Homo sapiens: one gene and its partner. The protein of the gene in region 1 interacts with the protein of each later gene in a pairwise test. Each region holds a gene or a part of one and is shown on either strand. Other genes may lie near its edges.

Region 1 (3,500 bases):
AGTAATTTAGATTTTAATAAGTCATACCAAGAATGTATTTTTCTTTAAATAAAAATTATAGAAAAAGTGTCCTTTATGTAAGAAATTTATTTTCAAAAACAATACCCAATTTGTCTTCAAAAATAGGCCTAACATGATAATCGTAGCAGTGACCTGGAAACAAGCAGATTCTGATTCACTGAAGAAACATTAAATCGTTTTGATGTGAAGTATATTTGTTTTCTAGTTCTTTAAATCCAGGCATGGATTGAAAATTTCTACTCAGCCTGTAATTGGATAATGGGGAGTGACAAATGGGAGTTACTATAAGTGACAATATAAATGCTTTCTAATTTTTAGTGTGTGTGTGTGTGTGTGTGTGTGTGTGTGTGGAGAAGGAATGAGGTGTTAACAGTTGCTTTGACTTTGAATTTAATGTAAGTCTGGTTGATATTATACATTTAATTAAGACAAAAATTAAGAGTCTCAAATCCTTTAAGTCAGAAAAGTTTCTTAAAACCTGTTAGAAAAGCCAGGTGTAGTGGCTCATGCCTGTAATCCCACCAAGCACTTTGGAAGGCTGAGGCAGGAATATCACTTGAGCCCTGGAGTTTAAGACCAACCTGAATAACATAGGGAGACCCCATCTCTACTTAAAGAAGAAAAAGAGTGTCAGAAAGCTAAGAAAATAATCTCCTTATAATTAAACACCTTTGTTTAAAAAAATTGATTTGGTTCATTTTAATATGAATATTAAAGGTAATGTTGAATGTTATCTTTATTCCATGTAAGTGATAAAACACCCAAGTGCCTAAATTATTTTGGTTAGACTTTGGTTGACTAAATATATATAGTATTGAAATCTCTGAAGTTCAAAATATTTATGTTTATAGGCACAGAATCAAAAGTTTCTGTGGGAATTTTAAATATAAAACTTGAAATGTATCCACCACTCAATCAAACGTTATCTCAAGAAGTAGTGAACACACAGGTAAATACTTATGAGTTTCTCTTTTTTTGTGTGTTTGTTTTCATAGTAGTATATTTACCTGTTGATCCTAGAAAGCACTCTATTTTTAGAAAATTACCATTTATTACTTTCTAGATTAGCACTCAAAGGTTCACAAAAAGGATGAGGAAGAAAATAAAGACAAGATTGTTTTCCTAGCAGAATCTGTAGTCTAGTTTAGGAAATACGATGAACATTTATTGAGACAGCATAAGAATTACAGGATAGGCCGGTGGCTCACGCCTGTAGTCCCAGCACTTTGGGAGGCCGAGGCGGGCGGATCACAAGGTCAGGAGATCGTGACCATCCTGGCTAACACGGTGAAACCCCGCCTCTACTAAAAATACAAAAAAAAAAAATAGCCGGGCGTGGTGGCAGGCACCTGTAGTACCAGCTACCCGGGAGGCTGAGGCAGGAGAATGGCGTGAACCGGTAAGAGGAGCTTGCAGTGAGCCCAGATCGCACCAGTGCACTCCAGCCTGGGCAACAGAGCAAGACTCCATCTCAAAAAAAGAAAAAAAAAAAAAGAATTACAGGATAAAGCTGAAGAAGATCAAAGAGTAAAGTGCAACCTCAGTGGGATGGGATTTTAACGTTCTTTCGCAGGCGTTTATTGAAAGCTTGCTGCTTATGTCTTTTCTGCTCTGTTCTCTCAGGGTAGAAGTGCTTGCCACTTTTAGAGTGTGTTTGGAGAGGCTTTTTTCCCTAATTCCACTGTCAGGTCTCTGATGAATTACTTTCTTCCTGGGTCTTAAAAGATCGGCAGATTTTTTCATTCCTTCACATTGGATTTGCCATCCATGTTTAGTTCTTGCCAGTCTTTAGTTTGGAGGTTCTCATTATCTGCTGACTTGCCGGGATGGCACTTGTGGAATGGTTCTCCTTGATTACATACACCACCCTTTACTCCACCCTGCCTGTCATATTGTTCCTTTTACAGACCTGTGGTTAGACGCTAGTGCTTCTCCCTCAGGCAAACAATGTCCTGCCCTGTTTTCTTTAAACTTTTTTTCCTTCCTTTTGTAAACTCTCATCTCCCTCTAATCTCTAGCTTCTGACATGTGTCATGGGTGGTATATATACCTGAAACCACATAGTGAGAACCAACTTTGATGTTACTCAAATAAATACCCAGCCCTGTGGGAGGCTAAGGTGGGTGGATCACTTTTGAGTCCAGCAGTTTAGGACCAGCTTGGGCAACATAGTGAGACCCTGTCTCTACAAAAATTTTAAAAAATTAGTCAAGCATGGTGGTACATACTTGTAGTCCCAGCTGCTTGGGAAGCTGAAATGGGAGGATTGCTTGACCCAGGAATTTGAGGTTACAGTGAGCTGTGATTGTACCACTGCACACTAGCCTGGGTTACAGACTAAGACCCTGTCTCTTAAATAAATGGTGTATACACACATATACATTATGTGTATACGTGAGGGGTTTTTTTGTTTGTTTTTTTCAGACAGAGTCTCGCTCTGTCGCCAGGTTGGAGTGCAGTGGCGCAATCTTGGCTCACTGCAACGTCTGCCTGCCGAGTTCAAGCAATTCTCCTGCCTCAGTCTCCTGAGTAGCTGGGACTACAGGTGGGTGCCACCACGCCCAGCTAATTTTTGTATTTTTAATAGAGACAGGGTTTCACCATGTTGGCCAGGATGGTCTCGATCTCTTGACCTCGTGATCTGCCTGCCTCGGCCTCCCAAAGTGGTATACATGAGTTTTAATCATGTTATTCATATATTTATGTGACATATAAAGTAAATGTTTGGGCTCTACTTTTTTGGGGTAGTAGCTTGTTTTTTTTAATTAAATTTTATTTTTTTAGAGACAGCATCTCACTCTCTCAGGCTTGAGTGCAGTGGTGTGATTATAGCTCACTGAAACCTCAGACTCCCAGCCTCAAGCAATCCACCTGCCTCAGCCTCCCAAAACATTGGGATTGCAGACATGGACCATTGTGCCCCACCAGGTTCTCCTTTTTAAACTTAACATTATTTTATATGTATTTTCTTATATTTCCACTGTCATATTTATAATTTCTAGTGACTAAAACATAAGTTTATTCTATTATCTGATAAATAAATTGCTTCTAATTTTCTCTTTAAAATTGCACTATTAAAACTTTTAGCCAGGCTAATTAATCTGTAATCCCAGCACTTTGGGAGGCCAAGGTAAGAGGATCACTTCAGGCCAGGAGTTCAAGACCAGCCTGGGCAACATAGGTAGACTTCATCTCTACAAAAATTTTTAAAAATTAACTGCACATGGTGGTGCATTCCTGTAGTCCCAGCTACTGGGGAGGCTGAGGTGGGAGGATCGCTTAAGCCCAGGAATTCGAGGCTACAGTGAGCCATGATCATGCAGTAGCACTCCAGACTGGGTGACAGAGCAAGACCCTGTCTCTTAAAAGAAATTAAAGTCAGAAATATGTATGGATCCTAAATAGATGTCAAAATGTGCTAGACACTGTTCTAGACACTGGAGATGTAGCTGTGTATAGGGCAGCAGACAGCTAGACAG
Region 2 (4,144 bases), on another chromosome or scaffold:
TCACCCAGCCATAAGCACACCTGAGAAAATTTTTAAACTCACTCTGACAAAGGAACAAGTAAATGAGAATTCTTAACAAATGGAATATATGATTAGATTTTAATTTTTTTCTAAAACCCACTTCTTTTACACCCTGTGCAAATATTTTTGTGCCTTTTAAACTTTACTAATCAAATGCAATTTACAATTAAAAGAAGCTGAAGTCAAAATAAGTGAACAAATCTTTTCAAGGTGACAAACCCACAGAGGGACAGTGCTGATTAGAAAAGAGATGTGTCTGACCTATGTGTCAAGTCAGGCCGTTCAATCACTTGAAAGATTCTCCCACCCGCTCCTGCTCACTAAAGTTCTCAATGACCAACCTCTCAAGAGACACTACACTATGCCCCAGTGACTGCCCCAAGTGCATTTTACTTTGCAAGTTCTTGCACCATCTCACTGGGGTGACCTTTTTTTTGTCTTTTGGGATACTATTTTTTCTTTCACAAATCTTAGAGAATCCAGGGGGTAAAAATTATTTCTGCATTTTTCTCTCAATGTGTCTCCAAGAAATAGAAGCTGGGTTGGGTGAAGTCAATCTTTTTTTTTTTTTTTTGTATACAGTCTCGCTCTTTCACCCAGGCTAGAGTGCAGTGGCATGACCTTGGCTCACTGCAACCTCCACCTCCCGGGTTCAAGTAATTCTTCTGCCTCAGCCTCCCTAGTAGCTGGGATTACAGGTGTGTGCCACCAGGCCTGGCTAATTTTTGTATTTTTAGTAGAGATGGGGTTTCACCATATTGGCCATGCTGGTCTCAAATTCCTGACCTCGCGATCCGCCCGCCTCGGCCTCACAAAGTGCTGGGATTACAGGTGTGAGCCACCGCGCCCAGCTGGGTGAAGTCAATTTTAATGTCTCAAGGAGTTAGCTTTTCAAAGGAAGAGTACACCAGGAGACTGCACTCAGACCCTGGGTATCTACCTGCTCCCTTGATAGGATACACTTCATACCTCAGGTTGTCCTATGAGAGAAAATGACCCAGGAGCTGATATTCACTAGACACTCTAGCCAACATAGCCACAATGGTGGGCATCCTGGTTTATCCCCATACAGTACTGAAAACCCAGGACCAGGAAAAAACTGAAGAGTGGCTGATGACCCATCACACCATAAAGTCTCCAAACGGAAACCTTGACCCACCAATATTCTGATAAGAACTCTGTGCCTAGGGAAGATAAAAGGAAAAGAGACACAGAGATTTTTTTACAATATGGTGTCAGGGATTATTATTCACTTTCTTCTCATGGGAAATATTTACAAACAGAAGACAATTTTTTAAATAGTGCCATCCAATGTTTTGTGGAAGAATTATTAATTGAAATATAAAATGTACAATAAAGGACAAATAATTGATAATGTGTATCAGAGAGGGGAAGGTGGCATTTGGGAATGTCAATGACACTGGAAATTTAGTATTTTACTGTAAATCAGAGTTAATCTGGAAGAACAGGGAGTAAGAAGTAGACTTGAGACCCTGCTTGAGACATATGTGAAAAATGCAGGGGAAAAGAAGTCCCCTGTGGACTGTGAAAATGATTCAGTGGCAGGCAATTAGACTGAGGTGGCTCTAGTCCCTGGGGTCCTCCTTTTTAAAAAAATCTAACTAAAATTTCATTTTTTAGTAAATTACCACATCGGGGAAAACAAAATTCAGGCTTAACCAACTATAAACTGCCAATTAAATTCTGATCACATAACCAGAAAATTGCCAACACGATCGTACAAATTAAGAGACTATATAACTGTACCTAACCAATTACTAATTTGATTTTTTTATCATGCACCTTATAAAAGTCTTTTATTCAAGCTCCTCCCATGGACCACAAACTACAAACCATAGCTGAGTGCTCTACAATACTTGAACCACTTTTTAAGTTCTTTAATATTTTTGCGGTGACTCCTATACATCTTTTTTTTTTTTTTTTGAGACGGAGTTTCACTCTTATTGCCCAGGCTGGAGTGCAGTGGCGCGATGTAGGCTCACTGCAACCTCCGCCTCCCGGGTTCAAGCGATTCTCCTGCCTCAAACTCCTGAGTAGCTGGGATTGCAGGCGCGCGCCACGACGCCCGGCTAATTTTTGTATTTTTAAAAATTGAGACGGGGTTTCACCATGTTGGCCAGGATGGTCTTGAACTCCTGACCTCAGATGATCCGCCCGCCTCGGCTTCCCAAAGTGCTGAAATTACAGGCGTGAGCCACCACGCCCGTCCCCCCATACATTTTTAACAGAAAAAAAGAGGAACTGGGAACCCCACAGCCCAAAGCTCTTTCATGAACCCGCACCCCGAGTCAGGATTCTCCCCTGACAACCCTCCCGTGGTCCCTGCTCAATCTGGGAGAGACGCGGTGCTGCGAATGCAGAGCTGCCCAGAGAGGGCTCCAGTCCAGGGCACAGTCACTGCGCAGGGAAGAGACAGGACGCCCGGGCCGGCTGTCAGCGCAGCCGCCATCTTATGGCTGGAGGAACTGGGGCCGAGCTGGGCAAAAAGAACTGGAGCGCAGATTGTGGAGCTGACTACAGGGAGGCCTGAGTCCCGCCACAGCCGCTTCCCACCGGTTTCAACCAACCCCTTTCCCCCTCGGGATGGCGGACCTGGCACTCTCACCATTTCTAGGCTTCCAGGGGGTCCCGGCGTCTTAGCTGTGGATCTCCCAATACCTGCAGGCCACAGGGCCACAGAGGCTGGGCGTCCACGAGCAGAAAACACAAAGCAGGGAAAACAAGACCTAGAGCTCAGGCTGCAGCGAGAGACAAAGGCCCCGCCACATCCCGGAAGCCGCCCTATCCGCACCAGCTGCGTTCCTGATTGGACGGTTCCCAGCCCAGCGTCTCTGATTGGATGATATTTAAGGCACCTTCTTTTCAGGCCCTGAGTGACAGAAGATGTGATCAGATGCTGGGCTGAAAGAAGAGCGAGTGACAGCCTAGGCTGCAGCCTTTTCAGACAGGGCTTCCTTCCTGAGCTGAGCCAGGCTCACACCAGAGAGTATTTGCCCTTACCTTGTGTATCAATTTATATGCATTCAAAAATAATATATTATATGGCTATTCACAAATGAACAAAGTATAACAACAATTGTTCTAAAATTTTAGATTTTATGACCTTCCTGTATTCTGGTCCTTTGAACAGGCAATCCTCTGAAATAAAATGTGAGTCACAGGTGAATTTTAAATTTTCTAGTAGCCAAACTTTAAAAAGAAAGAAGAAACAAGTGGAATTGATTGTAGCAATTTATTTAACCCAATATATTCAAAATATTTTCATTTTAATATGTGAGCAATATGTAATTATTAATGAAATATAAATACATTTGAAACAAAATCTTTGAAACTAATTCTGTATTTTACCTTTCTAGCACATCGCAGTTCAGACCAGCCACATTCCAGGCACCCAGGAGCCACACATGGCCAATAGCTGCCACATTGAAGTACAGCTGTGATGTCAGTGGGGGTGGAGGGCCTGAACACCCCTTTTCTGCCACAGGTGAGGGGACAGCCTCTATTTATCAACGTCTCTTTTCAGTTCCGAGGGTGAAACAAATAGTGGCTATAGAAAAAGCTGATGGCAGCAGGAATAAATCACAGGTAAACCACTGCTTACCACCTGTTGCCCATCTTTCTTTCAGAGATCAGACAGTGAGCAAAGGATGATGGGCCACAGGAGAAAAAAAACTATGTCTTCAGATCTGTTCACAGTCTTGACCTTTAATGTTTACATAGGAAGAAAATAGATTAAAGGCAAACTTATTTTGCTATTTGACCTCGACTCTAATGTTCAGGCTGTGGTTACCTGTTTTCTTCTGTGGTGTGGGAAACTGAGTGAATATAAGCACAATCACATGCATACATGTCCACATGTATTTCGGCATTTCTTTTTTTTGAGATGGAGTTTCACTCTTGTTGCCCAGGCTAAAGCGCAATGGTGTGGTCTTGGCTCACTGCAACCTCTGCCTCCTGGGTTCAAGCAATTCTCCTACCTCAGCCTCCCGAGTAGCTGGGATTACAGGCATGCACTACCACGCCCGGCTAATTTTTTGTACTTTTAGTAGAGACGGGATTTCTCCATGTTGGTCAGGCTGGTCTTGAACTCCTGACCTTAGGT

Evidence for each region. Proteins that work in one complex are often made in the same cells at the same time.
Region 2: the proteins of CEP76 (region 1) and ZNF85 interact in binary tests that used the Homo sapiens proteins (3 or more experiments, as listed by UniProt).

What each region holds. Positions count from the first base shown.
Region 1 is NC_000018.10:12,692,724-12,696,223, reverse strand, and holds part of CEP76 (centrosomal protein of 76 kDa), read left to right. Parts: intron 1-872; coding exon 873-970; intron 971-3,500. UniProt on the Homo sapiens protein: Centrosomal protein involved in regulation of centriole duplication. Required to limit centriole duplication to once per cell cycle by preventing centriole reduplication.
Region 2 is NC_000019.10:20,921,907-20,926,050, reverse strand, and holds the start of ZNF85 (zinc finger protein 85), read right to left. Parts: upstream 2,801-4,144; 5' UTR 2,651-2,800; coding exon 2,648-2,650; exon of another isoform or gene 2,635-2,647; intron 1-2,634. UniProt on the Homo sapiens protein: May be a transcriptional repressor.